5 separate regions of the Homo sapiens genome follow, and regions 1, 2, 3 and 5 are each linked to region 4. Evidence: fine-mapped expression QTL. A gene starts in region 4. Each other region holds a variant in brackets. All regions are shown on one strand. Distances are from middle to middle.

Evidence for each region. PIP is the estimated chance that this variant, and not a neighbour inherited with it, causes the effect.
Region 1: its variant is fine-mapped to the expression of SUSD6 in visceral fat (GTEx, PIP 0.97).
Region 2: its variant is fine-mapped to the expression of SUSD6 in testis (GTEx, PIP above 0.99).
Region 3: its variant is fine-mapped to the expression of SUSD6 in whole blood (TOPMed, PIP 0.99).
Region 5: its variant is fine-mapped to the expression of SUSD6 in whole blood (TOPMed, PIP 0.97).

The regions. Positions count from the first base shown.
Region 1 is chr14:69,389,229-69,394,332 of GRCh38, reverse strand. All of the region lies in intron 2 of ERH (ERH mRNA splicing and mitosis factor), which reads left to right. Among named protein-coding and RNA genes, the nearest start is that of ERH, 6.5 kb to the left of the region's middle. The variant AATAAT/T (reference allele first, on the strand shown) is at 2,053.
Region 2 is chr14:69,716,856-69,721,959 of GRCh38, reverse strand. No RefSeq gene overlaps it. Among named protein-coding and RNA genes, the nearest start is that of SRSF5, 48 kb to the left of the region's middle. The variant C/T (reference allele first, on the strand shown) is at 2,237.
Region 3 is chr14:69,700,959-69,706,062 of GRCh38, reverse strand. SUSD6 (sushi domain containing 6) reads right to left here. Exons shown (of 6, transcript NM_014734.4): 3 at 2,471-2,668; 4 at 1,321-1,459. Among named protein-coding and RNA genes, the nearest start is that of SRSF5, 64 kb to the left of the region's middle. RefSeq lists a silencer at 4,477-4,771. The variant C/A (reference allele first, on the strand shown) is at 2,025.
Region 4 is chr14:69,609,023-69,614,126 of GRCh38, reverse strand. It overlaps SUSD6 (sushi domain containing 6), which reads right to left and starts at 2,531. Exons shown (of 6, transcript NM_014734.4): 1 at 2,299-2,531. RefSeq lists a silencer at 2,013-2,782.
Region 5 is chr14:69,690,839-69,695,942 of GRCh38, reverse strand. The region is part of intron 2 of SUSD6 (sushi domain containing 6); the gene reads right to left. Among named protein-coding and RNA genes, the nearest start is that of SRSF5, 74 kb to the left of the region's middle. RefSeq lists an enhancer at 1,408-1,457. The variant C/A (reference allele first, on the strand shown) is at 1,915.

The DNA.
Region 1 (5,104 bases), 220 kb after region 4:
ATATAGTATCCTCCTTGCTACAAGTATTAGGTGTTTTTTTTTTTTAAACTAATGTATATAATGAGTGACTTTCCAGAGCTGCTTGTTGTTTTATAAATATTCTCTTCTTATTTGTCACATGTTATTTTGTTACAGTATGGAAATATTTTACAGGTATCCCTTATATATTCTGGTTAAGCTCAAACACTATAGGCTTGTGTGTCTGTCTGTTTTTAATAGGTTGTTTTAATAGATTTAAGGGATACAAGTGTAGTCTTCTTATATAGATATATGGCATAGTAGTAAAGTCTGGGCCTTTTTTTTTTTTTCCTTAAGACACGGGGTCTTGCTCTGTCACCCAGGCTGGGGTACAGTGGTGATAATGGCTTATTGCAGTCTCAGTTTCCTGGGCTCAAGCAGTCCTCCTGCCTCAGCCTCCCAAATAGCTGGGACTAGAGGCACCTGCCGCCACACCTGGCTAATTTTTTGGTTTTTTTATAGAGATGGGGTCACTGTGTTGCACATGTTGGTCTCAGACTTCTAGCCTCAGGCAGTTCTCCTGCCTTAGCCTCCCAAAGTTCTGGGATTACAAGCATGAGCCACCGCGCCAACCAAGTCTGGGCTTTTATTGTAGCCATCACCTGGTGTACATTGTACGCAGTAGTGATTTTTCATCCCTCACCATTCTCCCACCTTTTGTAGTCTCCAGTGTCAGTTATTCCACTCTGTCTGTCCATGTGCACACATCATTTAGCCTCCACTAATAAATGAGAACATTAAATGTTTGACTTTCTGAGTTACTTCACTTGAGATAATGACCTCCAATTCCATCCATGTTGCTGCAAAGACATGGTTTTATTCTTTTTTTAATAGCTGAGTAGTATTCCATGGGATGTGTGTGCATGCATTCTCATACACCACATTTCCTTTGTCTAGTCATCCATTGATGGATACGTAGTTGATTCCATGACTTTGCTGTTGTGTATAGTACTGCCGTAAACGTATGAGTGCAGGTGTCTTTGTTTCTTTTTGTTTTTTGAGACAGAGTCTCACTCTGTCGCCCAGGCTGGAGTGCAGTGGTGCATCTCAGCTCACTGCAACTTCTGCCTTCTTGGTTCAAATGATTCTCCTTCCTCAGTCTCCTCAGTAGCTGGGACTACAGGTGTGTGCCACCACGCCCAGCTAATTTTTGTATTTTTAGTAAAGACAGGGTTTCGCCACGTTGGCCAGGCTGGTCCCGAACTCCTGACCTCAAGTGATCCACCCACCTCGGCTTCCCAAAGTGCTGGGATTACAGGCGTGAGCCACCACTCCAGGCCATCTACTCTAATTCTTAAAGAAGAACATGGCATTTTTTTCTTCATCTCTTTACAGATCCATTTCTCTGCTGACATTTCTGCCTGCTATTGATGTAGATTTTGTATGCAGGCTCTCTTAGCAAATTGTTACCTAACCTACATTATCATGTTTGGTCTTTGATTCTGCAATACTCTTATTTCTCAGGGCAGTTTCAGGGTTCTAGAAAAATTGAACAGAAACTACAGTTTTTCCGATATTACTCTCTTTCTTCACCCCTACACAATTTCCCCTATTATTAATGAATTTCACTGGTGTGGTGCATTTGTAACAGTGGTGAACCAGTATTCATTACTGATACATTGTCATTAAGTAAAGTTCATAGTTCATACTAGGTTTCATTCTTATGTCCTACATTACTGTGGATTTTCCCAAATGCGCAGTGTCATGTGTCCGCCATTACAGCATCACACAGAATGGTTTCACTGCCCTGCCCTAAACATTTCTTGTGCTCTACCTATTCATCCCCTCCTACCCCACCCTCAACCTCTGGGAACCATTGGTCTTTTTACTGTCTCCATAGTTTTGTCTTTTCCAGAATGTCATATAGTTGGAATCATTATCGTGTGTGGCTTTTTCTTAACTGGCTTTTTTTACTTAGCAATGTGCATTTATTATGTTTCCCCCATGTCTTTTCATGACTTGGTAGCTCTTTTTCTAAAAATTAAAAGTGGTGATTTATTTCCCATTTAAAAAACTAAAACAAAAAAATGTTAA[AATAAT/T]TATTAAATAAGTTCTCACATGATGTGGTTGCCAAATGGTAATTTTATTATTCTTTTTTTTTTTTTCTTGTAGTAAATATTCCCCTGTAGATCAGAGCATTTTTTTCCTCCCCCCTTTTTTTTAAGAGCAGTTAAAGACTTTATTTAAGACCATGTTTTTAGAGCAGTTTTAGGCTTATGGGAAAATTGTTTGGAAAGTACAGAGCTCCAGCATACGCCTTCTTTCCTCCCCTTCTTAGTTTCCCCTATTAGTGCATCTTCTATTAGTCTGATTACACTTGTTGGGATTGGTGAATTAATATTCATAGATTATTATTAACTAAAGTTCGCAGTTTATGTTAGGGTTTACTGTATGTGTTGAACATTCTGTGGGTTTTGACATGTATAATTACGTGTATCTACCTTTACTGTATCATACAGAGTAGTTTCACTACCAGAAATCCCCATTGCTCCACCTATACCTCCTTCCCTGCCACCACCCCCAAACCCCTGATCTTTTTACCATATCTGTAGTTTTGCCTTTTCTGGAATGTCATGTTAGAGTTACGGAGTATGAAGCCTTTTCAGACTGGCTGCTTTAACCTAGCAATATGCTTTTTTTTTTTTTTTTTTTTTTTTTTTGGCGTGCGAGACAGAGTCTTACTCTGTCACCCAGGCTGGAATGCTGTGACGTAATCTCAGCTCACTGCAACCTCTGCCTCCCTGGTTCAAGCGATTCTCCTGCCTCAGCCACCCAAGTAGCTGGGATTACAGGCCTGCGCCACCATGCCTGGCTACCTTTTTTTGTATTTTTAGTAGAGACGGGTTTTACTGTGTAGGCCAGGCTGGTCTCAAACTCCTGACCTCAAGTGATCCGTCCACCTCAGCCTCCCAAAGTCTGGGGATCACAGGCATGAGCCCCCATGCCTGGCCAACCTAGCAGTATGCTTTTATGGTTCTTACTTTTTGTGTGTGTGGCTGCATAGCTGATTTCTTTTTATTGCTGAATAATATTCCCTTGAATGAATGTACCATGGTTTGGTTATCCATTCACTTATTGAAGAGCATCTTGGTTGCTTCTATTTTTTGGCAATTATGAATAAAGCTGCTATAAACATTTCTGTGTAGGCTTTTGTGTGGACCTAAGTTTTCAGCTCATTTGCGTAAATACGTAGGAGAGTGATTGCTAGATTATGTGGTACAAGTATGTTTAGCTTTGTCAGAAACTGCCAAACTGTCTTCAGACGTGGCAGGACCATTTTGCATTCCCACCAGCGTGAATGAGTTTCTGTTCCACATCCTTACCAGCATTTGGTGTTGTCACTGATTTAGATTTTAGCCATTCTAAGGTATCTTATTGTTTTAATTTGCAATTCCCTAATGACATACAATGTCATCTTTTCATGTGCTTATTTGCCATCTGCATCTTTATTGAGGTATCCAGATCTTCTGCCTATTTTTCATTGAGTGATTATGGTTAAGTTTTAGGAGTTCTTTGTATATTTTTAGACATTAGTCCTTTATCAGATAGATGTTTTATAAAGGTTTTCTCCCCGTTTGTGGTGTCTTCTCACTTTCTTAATAGTGTCTTTTGGAGCACAAAAGTTTTTTATTTTTATAAACTTTAACTTGCATATTTTTGTGTTTTTGGTGTCATATCTAAGAAACCATTGGTTTATCCAAGGTCACAAATATTAATGCCTTTATTTTTTTCTATGGGTCTTATAGTTTGGGCTCCTACTTTTAAGTCTCTGGTCTGTTGTAGAGATGTGTCCAACTTCATTCTTTCACATGTGACTATCCTGTTGTCCTAGCATCATTTGTTGAAAATACTGTTCTTTGTTGAATTGTTTTGGCATGCTTGTCAAAAAGCAGTTGACCATAAATGTGAGGGTTTGTTTCTGGACTCTCATTTCTGTTCCATTGATGTAGATACCTATCCTGATGCCAATACCATATTGTCTTGATTGGAGTAGTTTCATAGTAAGTTTTGAAATCAGGAAGTTTGAATCCTCCAGTGTTTTTCTTTTTCAAGATTATTTTGGCTGTCTTGGGTCTCCTGCATTTCTGTGTCAAACTTAGGATTAGCTTGTTGGTTTCTGCAAAAACAGCTTGGATTTTTATGGGAATTGCGTTGAATCCGTAGATCATCTGAGGGAGTATTGGCATCAGGTCTTCCAACTCATGAACATGGGATGTCTTTCCATTTATTAAGCATGGTGTGGTGGCTTTACTTTCTGCATGGCGTGGTGGCTCACACCTGTTATCCCAGGACTTTGGGAGGCCAAGGTGAGCGGATTGCTTGAGCCCAGGAGTTTGAGACTAGCCTGGGCAACATGATGAAACCCCTGCTCTCCAAAAAGTACAAAAATTAGCTGGGCATGGTGGCGCGTACCTGTAGTCACAGATCCTTGGGAGGATCACTTGAACTTAAGAGGTCAAGGCTGCAGTGAGCTGCAATTGGGCCACTGCACTCCAGCCTGGGCAACAGAATGAGACTGTGTCTCAAGGGAAAGAAAAGAGTCCTTCCATGACATTTTATAGTGTAGGGTGTACACGTTTTGTACTACTTTTGTTTCGTTTATTTCTAAGAATTTTATTCTTTTTTACGCTGTTATAAATGGAGTTTTCTTAATTTTATTTTCAGACTTGTTGTTAAGGCATAGAAATAAAATTTATTTTCATATACCAATCCTATATCCTGCAACCTTGCTGTACTCATTTCTTAGTTCTAATAGATTTTTATTGTTTCCTTAGGATTTTATATCTGTAAGATAATGTCATCTGCAAATAATGATGGCTGTACTTCTTCCTTTCCAATCTGAAGGCCTGTTATCTCTTTTTCTTGCCTAATTGCCCTGGCTAGAACTTCTAGTACAATGTTGAATACAAGTAGCGCAATAAATATTCTGGTATTCTTCCTAATCTTAACAGAAAAGCATCCCGTCTTTAACCATTAAGTATAATGGAGGCCGGGCATGGTGGCTTATGCCTGTAATCCCAGCACTTTGGGAGGCCGACGCGGGTGGATCACCTGAGGTCAAGAGTTCAAGACCAGCCTGGCCAAA
Region 2 (5,104 bases), 110 kb before region 4:
TTCTGTTTGTTTTGGTTGGGGTCGTTCCCTCTTTCTGAATGTGTAACTCTCTTGTGTGCCCTCACTTACTGTCTTTAGGACTGAATGAGTTCAGTAAGGGAGGAAGATAAGGAACTACATTGTAATTTTTTTTTCGAGACTGAGTCTCTCTCTGTCGCCCAGGCTGGAGTGCAGTAGCGCAATCTCAACTCACTACAACCTCCGCCTCCCAAGTTCAAGTGATTCTCCTGCCTCAGCCTCCCAAGTAGCTGGGATTACAGGCATGCGCCACTACACCTGGCTAATTTTTTTTATTTTTAGTGAAGATGGGGTTTCACCATATTGGCCAGGCTGGTCTCAAACTCCTGACCTCCGGTGATCTGCCCTTCTTGGCCTCCCAAAGTGCTGGGATTACAGGCATGAGCTACTGCGCCTAGCCCTATGTTGTAATTTTGATGGTTGTGGGCCGAATTGCCCTCCATAGACAATGTACCAATTTACACTCCTACTAGATACCTTTAAGCCTTTTCTTTTCCCAACCTGAGGTGAAAAAATATTATTTCTGATGTTTTAATATGTATTACTCTTATCATAAAATAGCACGTTTTTTGAATGTTTCTAATAAAAAATAGAAAAAGTTAACAAGGAGAGAATGTTGTAAATGGGTGTAACTTCTGTCTCTCATTTTCTGCCCTATGGAAAACAATAAAAAGGGTCAAAACACGTCTGCATTGGAATAGCTGCCTGGCTGTTGCTGGCAGGAACTTAGTTATGAGTTGTGGGTGTCCTTCTGTTGTCCACCTGGAAGAACAAGTGCATTGGTGCTGTCCTGGAGACTTGAACGGCTCATGTGATTTCTCAAAACGCCTCCTGCAGTCAGCCGGCAGGAGCTGGCTCATGGTAACCAAAGAGTCAGCTATGCTCAGTGCTCTGTTATTGTGGGGCATAGGCTCCAGGACAAGAAGACTTTGGACACTTTGGGTGTCCTGGAATTTCCTTCTTGTGATTAAAATAATTAAAATGTAGCAGTCTAACTCAGAGAAGAAAGGCATCCCTAATTTGAGCAGATCTTAAGACAATTATATGTTAGGTTAAAATTGCCCATATCTGAACTTTTTTTCAACCTGCAAAAATGACAGTTTCATGTGGTTCATGTTTTAGATGTTGGTACACTTGGCCGGGCGCAGTGGCTCATACCTGTAATCCCAGCACTTTGGGAGGCCGAGGTGGGCAGATCGCTTAGGCTCAGGAGTTCAAGACCAGCCTGGGCAACATGGTGAAGTCCCATCTCTACCAAAAAAAACACAGAAAATTAGCTGGGTGTGGTGGTGGGTGCCTGTGGTCCCAGCTACTCGAGAGGCCAAAGCACGAGAATTCCTTGATCCTGGGAGGCAGAGGTTGCAGTGAGCCGAGATCACACCACTGCACTCCAGCCTGGCAACACAGCAAGACTCTGTCTTAAAAAAAAAAAAAAGATGCTTGTACATTTGCTTCTATGGGTCTCTACAGCCTGAAAAGTCCTCTTCTTCCCATCCCACAGCCCCTCATTTACTTACTTCTCTACGAATAATATCGAAACACAACAATTTAGACCCAATGCGAGTGGCACCTTTCCGGGGAATCTTTGTTCATACCCTAAAGAAATTAGCTCCTTTCTCATCACTACCAAGCACTTTTCAGGGTGTATCATTATAGGTTTGTTTTTTGCTTCTTTGTTTCTTTCAATTTTAAGTTGTGCCTTAAGTTTTAGATAGCTGTTTAATCTCTTTCTCCCCTATTGGTCTACAAACTCTTTAAGGGCAAAGACTGGCTCTTGTTCATCACTATGTTCCTAGAACCTAACACTAGGCTTTGTGTAAAGTCCTCAAAATGAATGAATAAATAAATAAAAGTTTGTTGAATGAATTAGCAAACAAGTCAGTGAATGAGGATTGCAGCAGGAATGGGGAATGGCCGTCCCAGAGAGAGGCTACAGCACCAAAAGTCCCTAAAAGTCTCTGGACCCCAGCTGCTCAAGGCCCTCAAGAGGCCAACCCCAGAAGCCAGGGCAGCCCCCACGCTGGGTGCATTTGTGTTGAGCCATAGTCTTGTCGCATACCCCAGTCCCTTCAGACGCTGAGCCCTGCTGACACGCTTCATCTGCAATAGGCTGCCTTTGCTGCAGGCAGGGCTACTTACTCCCACAGAAAACTCTGCTATGGGGAAGTCCATGCTTGCCAAAACCTCTGCAGGAAGAACCATAGAATCATCTACTCCC[C/T]CAGGTTCAGAACAGTGTATACTGTCCCAGACAGCCTGCTCAGGACATTCCTAGCTTGTGAAATTTCCTTTTCTAGGGGCACTGGAGCGTCACAGGAAATGCCGAGCAGCTGTTTGCCTCTTGGGTGTGGGATTGGATGGTCCCCAAGCCCGGTAATGCTCCTTCATCACCAGGCAGCTTGGAGGATGAACCTAGGCTCAACTTGGGAATGTGTCATGTCTCACCCCAGGTTCACAGCTGATGAAATTCCCTTTTCAGTAACAGAAAGAGAAAAGCCTGGCAAGTGCCCCCAGCTCTAGTCCCAAGGAGAAGTGGGAAGACCTGAGAATACAGAGCATTCTCCTCACCTTTCAGAAGCAAGGCCCAGGGAGGAGACAGGGGCTGCCTGGGTCTCCTGGCCTTGCCTGATCTTTCCAGGGACCCAGAACCCATCCTGACTGCTGAGACTGCTGAGCATCTGGGACTGCATTTTGCTAAATGGCTTGGTGTCCTGGTTTTGGACATTGCTGAGAGGGATTCTTGGGCAGGATAGTAGGTGTGAAGGGGTCAGGTGATCAAGAACCCAGGGAGAAAAGCTGGGGAGTAGAAGAGGTGAGCAAGTGAGCAGCGTGAGGTGAAGAGGCCAGGAGTGGCACACCTGAATTCAAACCGCAACTCAGCTGAGGATGCATGACCTATGTGGTCTTGGACTGTACTTGAATCTCTCTGAGCCTTACTGTCCTCACCTGTAAAAAGGGTAATGACATCTGCCTTGCAAGACTGGCTGAGTTGATTGATTAAAATAACACCTCTCTCTCTCTGTCTCTTTTTTGTTTCTTTGTTTTGGAGACAGGGTCTCACTCTGTTGCCCAGGCTGGAGTGCAGTGAAGCAATCATAGCTCACTGCAGCCTCAACCTCCTGGGCTCAAGCAGTCCTCCCACCTCAGCCTCCTGAGTACCTGGGACTACAGGTGCAAACCACCTCACCCGGCTAATTTTTAAAATTTTTTGAAGAGATAGGATCTTGCTCTGTTGCCCAGGCTGGTCTCAAACTCTTGGCCTCAAGTGATCCCTCCCACCTCGACCTCCCAAAGTGCTGGGATTGCAGCCATGAGCCATTTCTCCTGGCCTAAAATAGTATCTTTAAAGCACCTTACCCAGTCCCGGGAACCTATTAGGTGCTCAGCAAACATCACGGAAGGTTGGGGAAAGGGAAGCTGTGTGGTAAATGTCCTGTGGAGCCAACACTCCCCCACGTGCTCCCCACCAGACCAAAGTCCCTATTGGGGCACAACTGCATTTGCTGCTGTCGCCTCTCATCTTGAAGACAGACCGTGAGACCCACTCTGTATGCAGCTTGGCTTCTGGGATCACTTGAGTGGGCAAGGTTGGGACAGTGCCATTTCCCCCACCCTGGGCCGCTGCTGGGAAGGCAGACCAGCCAGCTTCTACCATGGACTGGGCCACTCAGAATCTCCCTGTGATCCCTTCTTCTCATTCCAAGGCCTGTGGAGAAAAGAAGGAGTCTCCTTTCAGCCGGGCCTTCCCACTACCAGAGTGGGGGATTCAGCAGCAGTGCCTCTGGCCAGCCAGAGTCTCACTACCCTTGCCTCTGAGCTCCCTCCTCTCCTGCCACTTCCAATGCAGGGGAAAGAGGCCGCCTGTCACCCAGTGAGGTGGAAGCAGGTGATAAACAAGGCAGCTCTCTTCCTTCCCTAGTCTCCTCTCCATAGTCTAGGCTGCAGATGGGCCACAGCCTCAGGTTGAGATCAAGACAGGAAGGAAAATAAAGTGCTGCCCCAGGTCTTGAACTCTGGGAAGTATTCCCTATTCATACTGGGGCTCTTTTCCTTGCCTCCTGCCCAGCCCTGATCTGAAGGAACTAGGAAAGGAGTGAAGAGCTTCTCAGAACTTCCCCCAGACACCTAGGCTGCCTCAGGAGGTGATATGGTTTGACTCTGTGTCCCCATCCAAATCTCACCTTGAATTGTAATAATCCCCACATATCAAGGGCGGGACCAGGTGGAGGTAATTGAATCATGGGGACAGTTTCCCCCATGCTGTTCTCATGATCGTGAATTCTCACAAGATGTGATGGTTTGTTTTTGTTTTTTGTTTGTTTGAGACTGAATCTCGCTCTATTGCCCAGGCTGGAGTGCAGTAGCGCAATCTCAGCTCACTGCAACCTCTGCCTCCCGGGTTCAAGCGATCCTTATGCCTCAGCCTCCCAAGTAGCTGGGATTACAGGCATAAGCCACCAGGCCTGGCTAATTTTTGTATTTTTAGTAGAGATGGGGTTTCACCATGTTGGCCAGGCTTGTCTCGAACTCCTGACCTCAGGTAATCCATCCCCCTCGGCCTCCCAAAGTGCTGGGATTACAGACATGAGCCACTGTGCCTGGCCGATGTGATGGTTTTATAAGGGTCTTCCCCCTTCGCTTGGCACTCATTCTCTCTCCTGCTACCCTGTGAAGAGGAGCCTTCCCTCATGATTGTGAGTTTCCTGAGGCTTCCCCAACCACGCAGAACCATGAGTTAATTAAACTTCTTTTCTTCATAAATTACCCAGTCTCATGTTATTTCTTCATAGCAGCATGAGAATGGACTAATACAGGAGTTTGTCCTCAGGTGTCGCTCTTCCTTCCAACCTCTCCAGGAGCAGCATTCAGGGCCAAGGGAGCCACGGTGACTCTAGCGCAGTGAGTCATAGGTGTTCAGGATGCAGAGGGAAGTTGTGTTGGAGAACAGGATGGGGCTGGGCTCCAAAGCCAAGCAGAAGAGAGTGGACTTGCTGAAGATGGTGGGACAGGGACACACACTGGACCTGGACTAGGGGCTTAGAATTTCAGCCCAGCTCTGCCACCAACTAGCCATGTGGTCTTGATCAAA
Region 3 (5,104 bases), 92 kb before region 4:
TGTCTGTAAATCCAAATTTGGAACATTTTACTGAATGCAGTTTACTTTGGCCCTTTATGTTTGTGAGTTATAACAGTGACTGATGAAGGACTGTGAAGATATATAAAAAATGTTACTCCTCAAGAGGGAATGAGGAACTGCCAGGAAGGGCCAAGTAACTGCAGAAGCCACAATGGCCTGGAAGAAAAGTCCATCATCGGGAATCCACTCAGGGCCAGCACCATCAGCTCTGCCCTTCATGCTCCTCGCCCCTAGACAACTTGTGGCTAAAGCAGTAGACTGGAAAAGGAAACTGATAAAGGCAGGCAAGAAAATCCACTTCCTTTGTTTCTCCTTAGTGTGGTGCAGTGGTTCTAAATCCTAGTTGCACAGAAAAACTGAGCTTTTTATAAAAAGTGAATGCCAGGGTTCCATTCCAAACCAAATAAATCAGAATGGGAATGGAGGCCCAAGTGTTGATATTTGTTTTTAAACTCCCCCAGGTGCCTCTATATTGCAGCCGGGACTGGGAACCAGGAGTGCAGGATAGTGGCTCACAAACTTAAGTGTTCATCAAAATCACCTGGACAGCTTGTTAAACAATATCACTGGGCCTCACCCCTAGAGCTTCTCATTTGGTTGATCCTAACAAGTTCCATGATCCTGACGCTGCTGGAACCACGCTTTGAGAACGACTGGTGTAGGGGAAATGACATGGCTTTGGAATTGAACAGATTTCCGTTTTTTTTTGTTTTTTTTTTTTAATGGGACAGAGTCTTACTCTGTCTCCCAGACTGGAGCGCAGTGGTGTGATCTCGGCTCACTGCAACCTCTGCCTCGTGGGTTCAAGTGATTCTCCTGCCTCAGCCTCCAGAGTAGCTGGGACTACAGGCGCGCGCCACCACACCCGGCTAATTGTTTTGTATTTTTAGTAGAGACAGGGTTTCACCATGTTGGTCAAGCTGGTCTCAAACTCCTGACCTCAGGCAATCCGCCCACCTCAGCCTCCCTAAGTGCTGAGATTACAGGCATGAGCCACCGCGCGCAGCCTCAGTTCTGAGCTCTGTTGTCATCTAGAGGTATAACCCTGAGTGAATAACCTCTCTGAGCCTCAATTTCCTCATCTGCAATGTTCCTATGAGGATTAAGATAATGTATGCAAAGCAATAAGCACAATGGTAGGCACATCTAGGAGTTTGACACATGGCAGGGCCCTCCCCACTCCCTGGACACACACAGACCCACAGAGATTGGGGCCACCAGCAACCCTCCACCAAAGACTGGCCCCCACAGTAATGCTTGCACCTGCCTGTCTCATGTCAGCTCTGCCACTGGACTCACCTGCTATGATGGAAAGACTTCAGCTTTGGCTGCAGCAGCACAAACAGCACCACGAGGAGGAGAATGAGCGCCACGGAGCTGGCAGTAGAAGCCACTATAGACAGCGTGGGGACCCCAAGTGATGTGTGGGTGTCTTTATCTATAAAAACAAGCCATCATCAGAAGGGTTTTGTACCCAAATACACAAAACAGCTGATGGGCCCCACAGCTGATCTTGTCAAATGCCTCCTGAATGGTGCAATACAGACATCCTACGGTCAGGGTCATTTCAGGAATAACAGCTTAGAATGACCTATGTATACACAGTTCTTTTGGAAAAGGACCATTTCCCTATCCTGTTTCCTGAATAAAAAATTCCCCTCACTTCCAATCTTTGAGGTCCATCTGACACATAAACTCACTTAACCCTAGAGATTTTACCTTTATAAACCACTTTGATCCCATCCTCAAAAGCTTGAAGTTTGTAAACATCGACAATTTAACTGGGCATGTCATTCCACCATCTTAAGTTCTACCTATGTTCTTCCCAAGTGGCAGGATTAATTTACAGAAACTGGACTGTAATAAAACCTTGTCTTAAGATCCACAGCTTTAATTGTAACTCTCAGGTTGGTTCCCACCCATTTCTGGGGTGTCATGGGTTAAACATGCTCTGGTCTTGAAGCCTGAGTGGGAAGCACAAAGATGGTTATATGACACACTTT[C/A]CTGCAAGCAGGTGGATTTTCCTGTCATGCAAGACAGGAGGAAGCAGTAAGGGTGGGAGGTCTTTTGTCCAGCTGGTCTGTAGCTCCATTCAAGGAAAAATGAAATGGACGATACATTAGAGAAGGTATTAGCATTGTGCTCACTGTGAGGGCAGAACATGGTCAAGGGTCACCAACACTTGGCCATGCAAACAAGAGATCCTGAACATCAAACGGGCTTTACAGAGCAGGGCAGATGGCTCAATGAAATGCAATAGGACATGCACCAGCAACCTCAAGTATCTTCCACAAAGACATGAAGACCCAAGGAAGGGAGGCTGCAGAGCATCAACTGGGGCTGGGCTGCACCACAGCAAAGAGTGCTCTGGAGGAAGCATGCTTTGCATCCTGTGAGTTAACAGAAAGCAGAACCCCAGCAGCATCCCTTTTTCATCTGCCAGACTGACCCTCGTTGAGACGGCAGCTAATCTCCATGGCTGGTTTCCACTCGCCATTCTTACACGTCAGGTATTTGTAATCGCCCTTCAACATGTAGCCTTCAGCACACAGGTATTCGATGACACTGCCTGCTGTCAGGGGGTCTCTGCAGGGCCGGGGGTGGCAGATGTAGCCACCATTCTCTGGCTCCGGTGGTAGGGGGCACACTGCAAAGACAGGGAGAGAGCAGGGGTACAGTGGTGAGGTATCCAGTAGGAGTCTGCTCTCAGTGACGCAGCTCTGAAGGCCTCTACAGGAAACACAGGAGGAGGAAATAACCCTTTCCTTGGAGGAACTGTTAACCAAACCCTGGAAACTCAGGTTGCCACTGACAGAGGGGAAGTATACTGGCAACAGGGGAAGTGGCTGCTTGCAACATTTCCCCCTCCCTCCCCACCATGCCTTAAGAGAATTCCATCCATAAATGAACGGCAGACTCTAAAGTCTTGAACCTATAGAGATCTAGACATAATAGTTTTAATAAAGCCTGTATTATGTAATAAAGCCTGTAACACACATAATAAATCACAGTGAAAGGAGGAAAAATGTTGGCCTTGTTTCCACTATCAATGTCAGAAAAGACTCTATTGTATAATAAAAACGTGCACTCTTGGCCTGAGAGGGGATTTCTGATAGATTCCCTGGGAGGCTTCCCAAACCCCCTGTGCATCTTCCATTCTCTGACTATAGTAGTCAATGGCACCACCTGTCTCTATCCCATGATAAATTCCACATTTTCCACTGATATACAGGACTGCCTAGTTTCAAAAGCACCTTCACCTCCCGCCTTATTTGTCCTGACAACTCTGTGAGACAGCTATCGTTACTCTCCTTTGAAGAAGAAGACACTGAGGGCCACAAAAGTTAAGTGACTTTTAGCCAAGCTTACAGCAAGGTAAATGGCAGGCTTGGGGTCACAGTCAAATCTTCTGATTCTAAACCTCTGCTCTTTCCACCAGCAGACATTGCTTCTACCCCATGAGCTGCATGGCCTTTAAGGGGTATGGGTGTCAAGGTTACCTCCCCTTTGCCCTCTTGAAACTGGTCAGTTAGGGAGATGGCAGGCAGTGCCTAGGTATGGTGGGAACCCTGGTAAGTTGCAGTAATGGTAAGTCAGAGGATCTGGAAGGTCTGAGTGGACCTGAGGAGGAAAAGGACAACCTCTGATTCCACTCTGGACTGACACTGCAAAACTGAAGACCCCAGGTGGTGGACTGCCGGGTATTACCAGCCAAAACAGTAAAAGTGGGGGCACTACAGAATCACTGTTTGGAATGTTGGGCTGAGGTAGAATGGCCAGGCAACCATGAATGCAATAAAGACCAAAAGTTTTCCAAAGGAAATTCAATTTTGCTGACAAATAACCTGCCCCCATCCTGAATATCACAAGGACATCTGTATGAGAATAAGAACGGTCGTTTTCTTTTTCTCATTTCCTCTGACAGGCCTGGAGTGACTGAGAGTCACACCACAGTGCCTGACTGTCCAAGATAAGGCAGTTTCTCATCCACGAGAGGGGCAGACCACACCACCCTGCAGCTGTGCCCTCACAGCCTCTCTCACCCATGCCTCTTCTTTCCAATCTACAAATGGCTGTTAAGCAAGCTGACTGCCAGCCAGGTTGGGGAGTGGACACCAAATGGAAAAGAGATGATGGCTCCCTACCCTCAATTTGCTTATCACTTGAGATGGGGAGAAAAGGCACTTTTTCTTTTCTTTTTTTAGGTGATGCCACTAAAAAAAAGATGCCATTTTTAAAAAGCTATTAACAAAACAAAGCTGGGTAGGTGCCACAGGGATCCAGAGAAGTCTGGCAGCTTCTCTGAAACTAGGAGATGAGCTCCAGTAAGCTCCCCCCAAGTCCCCTCTAAGGACCCAACTTGTCCCTATTCTCCTCCACCACCAGAGTCTTGAACAGGAGAAAGAAAAACGCAAACACTCCTTCTGGTGCTCTTTAACTTTGGCCAAGTAGTTCAGAGCGCTGGCCAGCTAGATTTCCAAAGAAACCTCCGCAAACTGCTTTAGCCTTTACACTTTCCCTCTTTTGTTCAGGGCAGCAGGCCTGCCACAGATCTCCCTGACTTACTCCCTGGCTCTCCTTGGACTGTGTCTAATTGGTTCATTTCCGTGGCATAATTAATGCTGAGCACCCCATGGCAGCTCCTGAAAGCAGGCAGGACCCACACACAAGTCCAATGTGCTGGGAAGGACAGTCTCAGGGGAAGAGCTGCTGATTCTAAAGCCACTCCTGCTTTGCTGGGTATCTCTTTCCATAAAACCCACATCTCCACAGAATCTTTGAGCGGGATCCTGGCGGTCACCTAGCACTCATAATAAGTCAAAAAAAAAAAAAAGTGAGGACTGCAAAGAAGTGACTTGTAATTCAGTTTAATTTCAATTCAACTAATACTTACTGATTCTGAGTAGGGGGTCACTGTGCTATGCTCTGAAAAAGGACAAAAATATAAGCACCTCAGGTCCTTCTTGCCAAATAGGGATATGACCATTAAGTGCACACATATATTTAAAAAATCATTCTCTTTATGGCTTCTGGATTAAGGACTCTTTCTCTACTCTGAGTTTATAAACATACTCTCCAGTAT
Region 4 (5,104 bases):
CACTGCACTCCAGCCCGGGTGACAGAGCGAGACTCCATCTCAAAAAAAATAAAAAATAAAAAAGAACACAAGTTCAATCACCACACCTCAGAGACTGACCAGGAAAACAGACAAAGTGCTGAGGTCTCTTTATCTGCCAGCCTGTATCTGTAACACCTCATTCTACCCTTCTTTCTCTTCTATCTCACCAAATTCTGGGCTTTCAGAAGGCAGGCTTCAGCGAAAGAAGTCAAACTTGCCCATTTGACAGTGGGTTTGCTCTCAGGGTTTAAACACTGAGCACCCTGGCACCTGTCTCTATCTAGGTGTAAGTGAGGATTTGTTTCATATGCCATTTCTACTACAGTATCCAAAAAATTACTCTGCAGACAGGAAGTCCTATCTATCAGGACTCATACCAATACTGTCCTCTGTTTAACTCGCTGGGCAGAAGTTCCTTCAGCAGCAAATGGCCAGCAATGAAAGCTAACAACATAAACCAAAACAAATGGACTTAAAGGCTGTGAGTCCATGAGAGCTGGATTCTGACTTATTCAATGCAGTACCTGCAATACCTAGCACAGTGCCTGGCATACATTCGGTATCACATAACTACTTGGGAGTACTGAATGAAAGAATGAACAAATGAATCTTATGCAAACATACCGTAAGTGTGTACCCAGGAGAAAGAGTTTAGAATGCTCATGATCTGAGAAACAGCCTGAAGCAGCAGTGCTTTCAGAAGGTTTTAGAAAGACTCCAGGTTCAATTTTATCAAAAGGTAAACAAACCAGAAACTAGCAGTATAATCTAGTAGTTCAGACTGTGGGCTCCACCATGAGATACCTATGTGACATGGGCGAGTTATTTAACTTGTTTGGTTTGGGTCTCAACTAGAAGAATGGGGATAATAATATCTACATCAAAAGTCTGTTATTAAATGAGTTCAAAAAAGTAAAGCCCTTAGCACAAAGGTTGGTACTCAGTAAGTCCTCAAGAACCTTTCCATATTATTGCTGCTTAAATACCTTCTTTCCTGAGATGTAGACATACCTCCCCCAACTCCAGGAAAATTTTAATTTCTGGTTGAATATGCTTCTAGCTAAAAACACAAAACCCAGAGAACTCAGAAGTCAGTGCCAAGCACATGTCTCTACTAGCCTCCACTAGATGGTGACAGTTTGGGTGTGGAATTCCCAAAACAGAAAAGGTGTGTGTGCGTAACTCCTATGTATGTTTTTACACCAGAGGAACGAAAACAGCAAGAAATGAATTAACTACTGTGAAGGAAAGACATACTTCCCATCTCTGTAGATCAAAAAAGGGAGTAAATCCCTAGGCCTAATTGAACTGAGTAATCTTACTGCACCTCTGGAAGAGCACACAGGAGCCCAGTTAGCGAGAGCAACAAAGCCCAGCATGTCGCCTGCCACTGAAAGAAAATTCTGTGGGAACAACAGCTTTAGGCCTCCTTGCCCAGACGCCAACTTCCCTTTAACCAGCCCAAGACTTTATTTTGACGCCTCTTTGCTCCTGGGTCTTGCTGTCCCCATAACCACCTCCCCCTCCTGCTCCTAAATTCGTCCAGGGTAACTTTTCTCCACTTCAGCAGCTCCCCAGCCACGACTCCCATGAGGGAGAGTCAGATCCACACTCATAGCTGGGGTCTCAAAACCAAGCGAAAAAAGGAAAGTCTGTATGTACGTGCCTACTTTTTGAAAGAAAATAGCTGGTTTCGGGGAGTTTAGCCTGGTTAATAAGAGAAGTTTTTGAGATTAAAGAGCAGCCGAGGCGCGGGGGCTCCCGAATGCCGCGGTGCGCACAGGCGGGCTCTGAGATTTCCTCAGGAAATCCACCTTCTCTAAGCCAGCCCTGCCCCAGCGCAAGCCCCGCAGCTTTGCTGGGCTGAGGGCAGTAATGACAGTGGCACAGAGGGCCTCTGCCTACCTCCTCTGCACCCATCGGCACGGCGTCTGGCTCTTCCGGTGCTGCCCGGGCAGCGACGCGGGACGGCGCGCCCCGGACCGCGGGTCACCAAGTTCCCGGCCGCAAACCAGCCGCCGGTCCCCCCGGCCGCGCAGCCCCCACTGCTGGCCGGCTGGCCGCGCCACGCCAGCGCGGGGCTCCCAGCGGCGCGGCTCGCGGCCGGGTGACAGCGGGCCGGCGCAGAGAAGCGCGGGGAGCCGCCGAAGCCGGCCCGGGCTCCGGCCAGCGTCACTCCTGGGCGGTGCGCGCTGGTCCCGCGCCCCTGACAGCCGGCCGAGCGCGTCGATGGCACAATGCCGGCCCCGCCGCCCCCGGGCCGCGGTGACAACTCACCCGGGAGCCGGCGGAGACCTCCGGGATGGGGGCGCTCACAGCTTCCACGCCGCCGCTTGCGCGCGCCCGCAGTCTTCTCGGGTCTAGGCGAGGCCCCGCGTGCCCTTGTCTAGCTCGCTCTGGCCGGCGCTGTGGGCAGAGGAAGCGGGCGGGAGGGAGGGAGGAGGTGGGGCGGTCGCCGGCTTCGGAGAATAGAACGCGGCGGTAGCGACGGCTGCAGCGCCCGCGTCACTGACCCAGCTGTACCGCGCGGGCGGGGGAGGCCCCGCGGAGGGGAGGGGGCGGGGAAGGGGCGGGAAAGGGGCAGGGCCAGGCGCGCACGCAACGGCGCCGGCGTCGCGCCGCCGCGACCGCCCCGCCGGGAGGCCCTGCACGCACGCGCCGCCGGCCGGGCCAGGTACCCAAGGGAGAAGCGACGCGGTTGGGGAGGTGGGGGGTCCTTAAAGAGACAGTCCCTCTGCGCTGGAGTGGATGGGGCGGTGGCACCGACTCAGCTGGACTATGCGGCGTTTCCAGTGCGCTCTCCAGTTCGTTTACTATTATTATTATTTGCATGATTGAATTACTATTATTTGCAAAGAATTGTACTGCCCTGAGGTTTACAAGGCTTTTGGCGCATGTTGCCTTGTTAGCTCTTGAATTGCTCGTCTGACCTAGCTCGTCTGAAGCAGGTTATTATCTCCCTGTTAAGCAGTAATCCGAACTGTGGTTCCTAGCCTGCCAACATTAAAGCTGCCCGGGGGGTGGGTGGGGGTGAAAATGCAGATTCGGGGCCCCGAATGACCTCCAGCCATTGTGATTCAGTGGGGTCGGACTTGGGAATCTGTATTTTCACTAGCATTCTGAAGTGAGTGATCCTTCAGCATACTAAAAGCACACAAGGGATCTCAAGGTTGAGAAAACCGCAGTTCAGAGCCAGGACTGGCAGAGCCCGGGCTAGAAGCCTGCCACATTCCTAACTGTATTTCCCCTCTTGAGCCTTGCCTTCTGGGGCTATTTTCTAGCACATACTGAGTGAGCAGTTTGTGCACTGTATGGCTACATCGTTTATTGGTGATCTCTCATGCAGTGTGTCCTCGGTTTATGTGTTTACAGGGCCCGTGGCGCCTTGATGGGGAGGACTCTGGCTTTTTATCTTTGTACCCCAGGGCCTTGCACCGTGTCGGTCTCAGAGGTCCTCCATAAGTGTTAAGGAACTCCTACTTGTAAATCAGTGGTAGAGTCCACATCTGGACCTACAGACTTGTGTCTTTGCTGCAGCTTGGGTCAGGCAGGCCTCTTCTCCCAGATGCTCTTGGACAAAAGGATACACCTTCTCAGGGCCTCTCACCAGGCCTAGTTCTAGTAGGCTTTCGGGAAAAGCACTGTGAATTAACAGGGCATGTCCTTGTGAAGTAGCTTGAACCAAATAAACAGGATGCTCCTCCCCATGCACACAGACCCATCCCCAAAAGAACCCTTCCCTTCTGGGCCCCACAGCAACCTGTGGCTCGTTGCTATAATGCCTTTTTCATAAGTCTATCCTTGTTCTGCCTTCTTTCTTCCTTGCCTTCTTGGGTCCAGACTCATTAGAGAAGATGGGCACCCCTCCCTTCCTGCTCATTTGGGGCCACACTGCCCAGACCACTAGAAGATTGAAAAGCACAATTCAGAACTACCTGGGTCTGCCTCAGAGCACAACCAAATCAGTGTGGGCAGCAGGAACATGCCAGGCAGACCCAAGGCTCAGGGAGGGGACAAGGGGGAAGGAAGCAAGGGAAAGGGATGGAGGAAGAATTGGAGAAGATGAATGGAGGAAGGAGAAAAAGAAAGAAAGGAAAGGGAAGAAAGCAGGCATGGATGGTTCAGGTCAGATCAACTGCCAAAGTAACTGAGCCCCTGGCTGTGCACTGAAGTCAGTTTGGCCATTAAGAGGCTCAGTAACTTCATACAAGAACTGCCACCTTATAAAATCCCTTGTGAGACCCTATGCAGATCTGTCCATCACTACCCAAAAATCCTCAGTCGGGCGCGGTAGCTCACGCCTGTAATCCCAGCACTTTGGGAGGCTAAGGCAGGCAGATCACGAAGTCAGGAGTTTGAGACCAGCCTGGACAACATGGCGAAACCCCTTCTCTACTAAAAATACAAAAATTAGCCAGGCGTGGTGGCACATGCCTGTAATCCTAGCTATTCAGGAGCCTGAGGCAGGAGAATTGCTTGAACTCAGGAAGCAGAGGTTGCAGTGAGCCGAGATCGTGCCATTGCATTCCAGCCTGGGTGACAGAGTGAGACTGTCTCAAAAAAAAAAAATCCTCTCCCAGACCTTCAGGGTCCACAGAATGAACTCAAAGTCATCAGCAAGGACTGTAGTATCCTGTGCTGTCCACAGTCCGGCCCAAATGCTCTCCATCCCTCCACACACCCCACTCCAGCCTCCCCATACCACCTGCTGGTCTCTAACAAGCCATTCCTGTCACAAACCAGGTGCCCATGCTGTTTCCTCAATCTTGAAGGCCTTCTCTACTTACCCTTCAGAATCTTCCCAAGGCTGCTGCTTCTACTTTTCTGTGGCACTTTGGTTGAGCCCCAAAGTGCCACAGAAAAGTATTAAATTAAAATTTTTAAACATTTTAAATATTTAATTATTTATTTATTTATTTTGACGGAGTCTTGCTCTGTCGCCCAGGCTGGAGTGCAGTGGCATGATCTGAGCTCACTGCAACCTCCGCCTCCCGGGTTCAGGGGATTCTCCTGCCTCAGTCTCCCGAGTAGCTGGGTTACAGCTGGGATTAGCTTCCATTTCCTTCTGCTTTGAATTGCCAGA
Region 5 (5,104 bases), 82 kb before region 4:
TTAGAGCATTCCAGACAAATACAAAGAAGAAAAAACAAGTGATGACATCTGATATGGTCAAAAGGTTTCTTCTGAAGCCTCCTAATAACAACAGCTTGTGTTCACTGACTACAGGCCAGGCACTATCTGAGCACTTTACATATGTAACTCATTTAAGTTTCACAAAAAACCCTCTAGAAACATAACAATGCATTACACAGATGAGCCAGGGGTTGAGATACTTGCTCAATTTCACCCAGCAGGTGGGTGGCACAGTTAGGATTTGAACCCCAGAAGGCTGTATTCCCATTCCACAGCACTGGGCAGTATCAGAGGGTCTCGGAGTCAGGCTTCTCTCACACCCATAATCTGTCAAGGGAGCCACAGATGGCAGAGTCCAGTGACAAGGACAAACTGGGTACTGCCCGTAGACTCTGGGCCTCAGTTTCAATACATGAAGGCAATGAACCAGATCACCTCTGAGATCTCTTCTGACATTTGCAAATTTGTCTAAAGTTGGCGGGCCTCACTACCTCTCCAAGGTTCCTTCGCAAAAGTCCTGCAACCATTGTGGTTTTGGATACAGCACAAGGTGTGAGGGGCTAGAGATCATCCTGTCCATGCAGAAATTCCTGCATTGGGACAGATTCCTGCTGTGGACTTGTGGTGAGAGCCGGAAAACAGGCAGGAGTCCCACTACTTAAGAGATACCTGGGGCTGCTCTGGTCCATGGCTCTGCCCAGCCTTCTGGCTTCCCGATCCCGCCAAATAGTCAAGTCTAAAACAGGCTGCAGTGAGAGGGAAGTGAGATGGTTTCTCATGCCATTTGCAACCTTCCTCTCCTATGAGACAAATCTTCCTAGCAGTCAGACAGGAAGCCTATTGTCCAGTCAGGATCCCTTTTCTCATGAGAACTTCCCACTCACTGGGGGAGAGCCAGCCTGCAGTAGCTCAAGCCTTTTTCAGGGTGTGGCACCAGAGCTGGGGTGGGAGAACACAGGGAGAAACCACCCATGGCTCAGGATACCTCCTGTGGCTCTTCTCGGGCCCCCACCACTGCCTTCCTAAGAGAGGCTCAACCTAAGCCCTCCTCGGAAGATCAGCAACTGACAGGTGGGACAGGCCTCGGACCTGTCCATCTTGTTTTAGGCCTGGGCCCCTCACTTCCTCCCCCTCACAGGAGAGGGAAAATGCCAGCCAGAGGCCTCAGAGCCAACAAGCACTTTCTTTTACTGCACCCTGCCTCAAACATAAAAACTCCTGTCACCTGGAGTTTTCATGTTTGAGGCACAGCGTTCAATAAAAGAAAGTGCTTTTAGTGGCACCTAAGCCTCTAAAGTCCTTAGTCATTCAGTCAAAAGTACTGTTTCTCTCCCAGCCTAGAAACCCTGAACTGAAAGCACATGCAGTCAGCTGGAACCCCACCCATCTCCAAGGTTCCAAGGCCACCTTCCCAGGCATGGCCAGAGAGAAACAATGAGCAGCACAGGGTGGAGCTTACCAGCTTGGGCTGAGACTTCACGGCCTGGGGTTGCACACTGCTCCAACAGTTACCCACTGGGTAGTCCTGGGGAGATCTTCCTATTCCTCAGTTTCCTCATTTTTAACATGGGGATTCAAAAGGTTAATCACAACTATGCAGGTAAAGTACCTGGTAATGGGTCTGTCACATACTAAGTGTTCAATAACAGCAGCTTTATTATTCCTCCTCTGGGTTCCCATTACATCATCTTCACTCCTATTTGTAACCTATCACCATGTTGTAGTCTCTGCAGGTTTTCTCACAGGTTGGTCCTTCCTCCATTTCCCCAATAACCACCAACCCACACATCTAAGCCATAGGGCAGAGACTTGTTCTGCTCATTTTTGTATCCCTAGTACCTGACAAATAATCCAGGAGATAGTAGATGCTTAGTAGAAAACCAACGTGACTTG[C/A]AAAATTTTGTCCTTATTTCAAAACACTGTCTTGTTTTCAACTGCAATGAGCCACAATGATTTTTGATTTGAGATGAGTCAATAACAGACAACGGCAAAGAGCATCCCTCTCCAGGGTACAATTTGTATTCTCCAAATTGGTACCTAACTGTGAAAATACACTGCCTACCTAACAGGACCAGAGCCACATGGAGTAAGAGCATAGTCTTGGGGGTCAGACAGATGAATCTGGGTTTGACCCAGGGGCCTGCTCTGCAGCCTTGTCAACTGTCATAACTCCTCTGAGCCTTAGTCCTTAGCAGCCAATATCCAGCTCCACAGGTTTTTTTAGAAGACTAACAAAACTGCATACTTGAAAGGGTCTTGTATCATGCCTGGCACATTACTAGGCACTGATAAATTTTCATGTAGCAAACTAAACCCTTATCTCTGATTTTTGGAATGGGCAAAGGCTTTGGTAAAAAGAAAAAGGATTATTTCAGAAATTTCTGGATATTTGGAGAGGGGGCAGGCAGAAAACAGAGCAGGATAAGCACTTTGGGGGGTGTTGTTTGCTCTCTCCTTGTTCCAGTTCAGTAATAAGCCGGCTCCTTTTTCACTTCCCGTTCTCGACAATACAGCCCAGGCTGCTCTTGGCTGACAAATGGACTCCATATGGCCTGTTACCCTTTCACCTCCTCTTGTTCTTGCAGCTCAGGGACCCAGGGAAACAGGCTGCCAGCTGGGGCTGGGAACCCCTCCCCCTCCCACTGTTACCACTGCTACAAGGAGGGGCAGGCCAGAGGACCATTCTCCTTTATCCTGCTGCTCCAGGTACAGGGCTAGCCCACTCAGTGCCCAAAGCCACTACCACTGCTATAGGTCAGTACAGTGACCTATAGAGCAGAGCCCACAGCTGTCTCCTACCTCCACCTCCAGATGGTGGGATGACAATGGAGGTAGGGAGCCAGGCTATTCCACGTGTATTAGCAAGTGTTACTGTTTCCCTTGACAGTGGCAGTTAAAGGCTTAAGAAAAAGCAGAGAATGCTTATTTTTTCCTCATCAGCCATTGTCACTTCTTGTTCTCATCTCCTTCACCATATCACCTACCTGAGCTAAAATATGTGTTTGCTCTCCCCTCTCAGAATTCCTCATCTCCCAGAGGAGATGACTGGTCCTCTCAGGAAAGGCCCAGATGGCTGTTTACGGCAGCTCAGAAGGAAAGCTGATGAGCAGGTGATAACTGACTTAGGAGTCTGGCTTAGAGTTTAAAACAGGGTTGGACTCTTGGGTACAAAGGCCAAAATTGTGGTTTCATTTCCAATCCTACCAGCTAATGGTAACTCCTAATGCCAAGTACAGTCCCAGGCATACACAGCAGGGCCTCAAGAAACACACAATCAAATTTAAAACAAATTTAATGATCTCTGTTGCCAAAAGGATACAAGTAAGGAAGAGAATTAACATTTATCACCAGGCACTGCACTGGTACTTTAAAAGTGTTATCCTATTAAATTCTTCCACCCTAGGAAGAAGGTGGTATAAAACTTGATTTGTTCAGAAAAAACTGAGGCTCTGAAAAATTTAGTAATGGACTGAGGTCACCTGGATTCTAAGTACTAGAGTCTGCATTCAAATTCTGGCTGGCCCTTCTACAAGGAAGCTTCTTGATTTTTTCTGATGCCACCAGAAAAAAATTTACCCCAAGACCTACAAAGTATAACATAGGGGTGGGATACATATGGACAAAAGCTGCTATAATTCCTGTTTGGAGAAGAATATGGCCTGGTGAGTTTAGTTGTGCCCAGAGGACTCAGTTCATATCTCAGGTGGGGCCACATTTTTCCAGAGAAGTGGAGGGAAAAGGCAGGACAGTTTCCTTCACTAATTTCTGTGTACTACACACAATGGAGCTATTTAAGGATCACAGACAGCAAAGTTGCAAGTGGGAGAAGATATGTAGGCATTTTCAGCTGAGAACACATGACTTCTTTTTTTTTTTTTTTTTTGAGACGGAGTCTCACTCTGTCACCCAAGCTGGAGTGCAGTGGCATGATCTCAGCTCACTGCAACCTCCGCCTCCCGGGTTCAAGCAATTCTCCTGCCTCAGCCTCCTGAGTAGCTGGGACTACAGGTGTGTGCCACCACACCGGGCTAATTTTTGTATTTTCGGTAGAGACAGGTTTCACCATGTTGGCTAGGCTGGTCTTGAACACCTGACCTCAGGTAATCCACCCGCCTCAGCCTCCCAAAGTACTGGGATTACAGGCGTGAGCCACCAAGCCTGGCTGAGAACACAAGACTTCTAAGACGGATATGTGAAAGGAAGGTTGTCACTAAATGCAGAATGGGGATGTGACCTGGAATTAGAGGGCTACCTTTCTGCCACTGCCCAGAACACACAGGGCCACTGGGTTATCACTGCCAAAGCCTGAAATAAACAGCCTCTGCCACATACTCCCAAACAGGGGGTCAGGTAGTGTGCTGATTCTCTTAGGCACTCAACAGGCCACTGCTACTCACAAAGGCCTAGACAACCGCAAAGAAAGAAAGGAAACACCAGTAAACTCTAGTTATGGATGGTAACAGAAATCCACTGAGGCAATGGCCCCAAATCAGCAAAACACCATAGGTCTTTGAGAAACACCAGCAGTTGAGGGGTGGAGGTCTGAATGGGTTTTTTGTCGCTGTTGTTTTGAGATAGAGTTTTGCTCTGTTGCCCAGGCTGGTGTCTAGTGGCACGATCTTGTCTTGGCTCACTGCAACCTCTGCCTTCTCCCAGGTTGAAGCAATTCTCATGCCTCAGCCTCTTGTGTAGCTGGGATTACAGGTGCACACCACCAAGTCCGGCTAATTTTTTGTATTTTTAGTAAGGACAGGGTTTCGCCATGTTGCCTGGGCTGGTCTTGAACTCCTGACCTCAGGTGATGCACCTGCTTCAACCTCCCAAAGTGCTAGGTAGGATTACAGATGTGAGCCACTGCACCCAGCCCTGAATGGTCTTTTCTGAAGAAAGAGATGTGACTGGGTCTAAGGCATACCATGAAGTGAGCCCTGTACATTCTGGGGGGTGGGGTCCCACCATGAGACAGGGACTACAAATACAAAAGAGACAATAAAAGGTGTGTGGTTTTTTGGTGCGGGGGGAGAAGGCTGGACGAAGCCACAAGTCTCATCTCTATTGCCTCTAAACCAACAAGCCTAAGGAA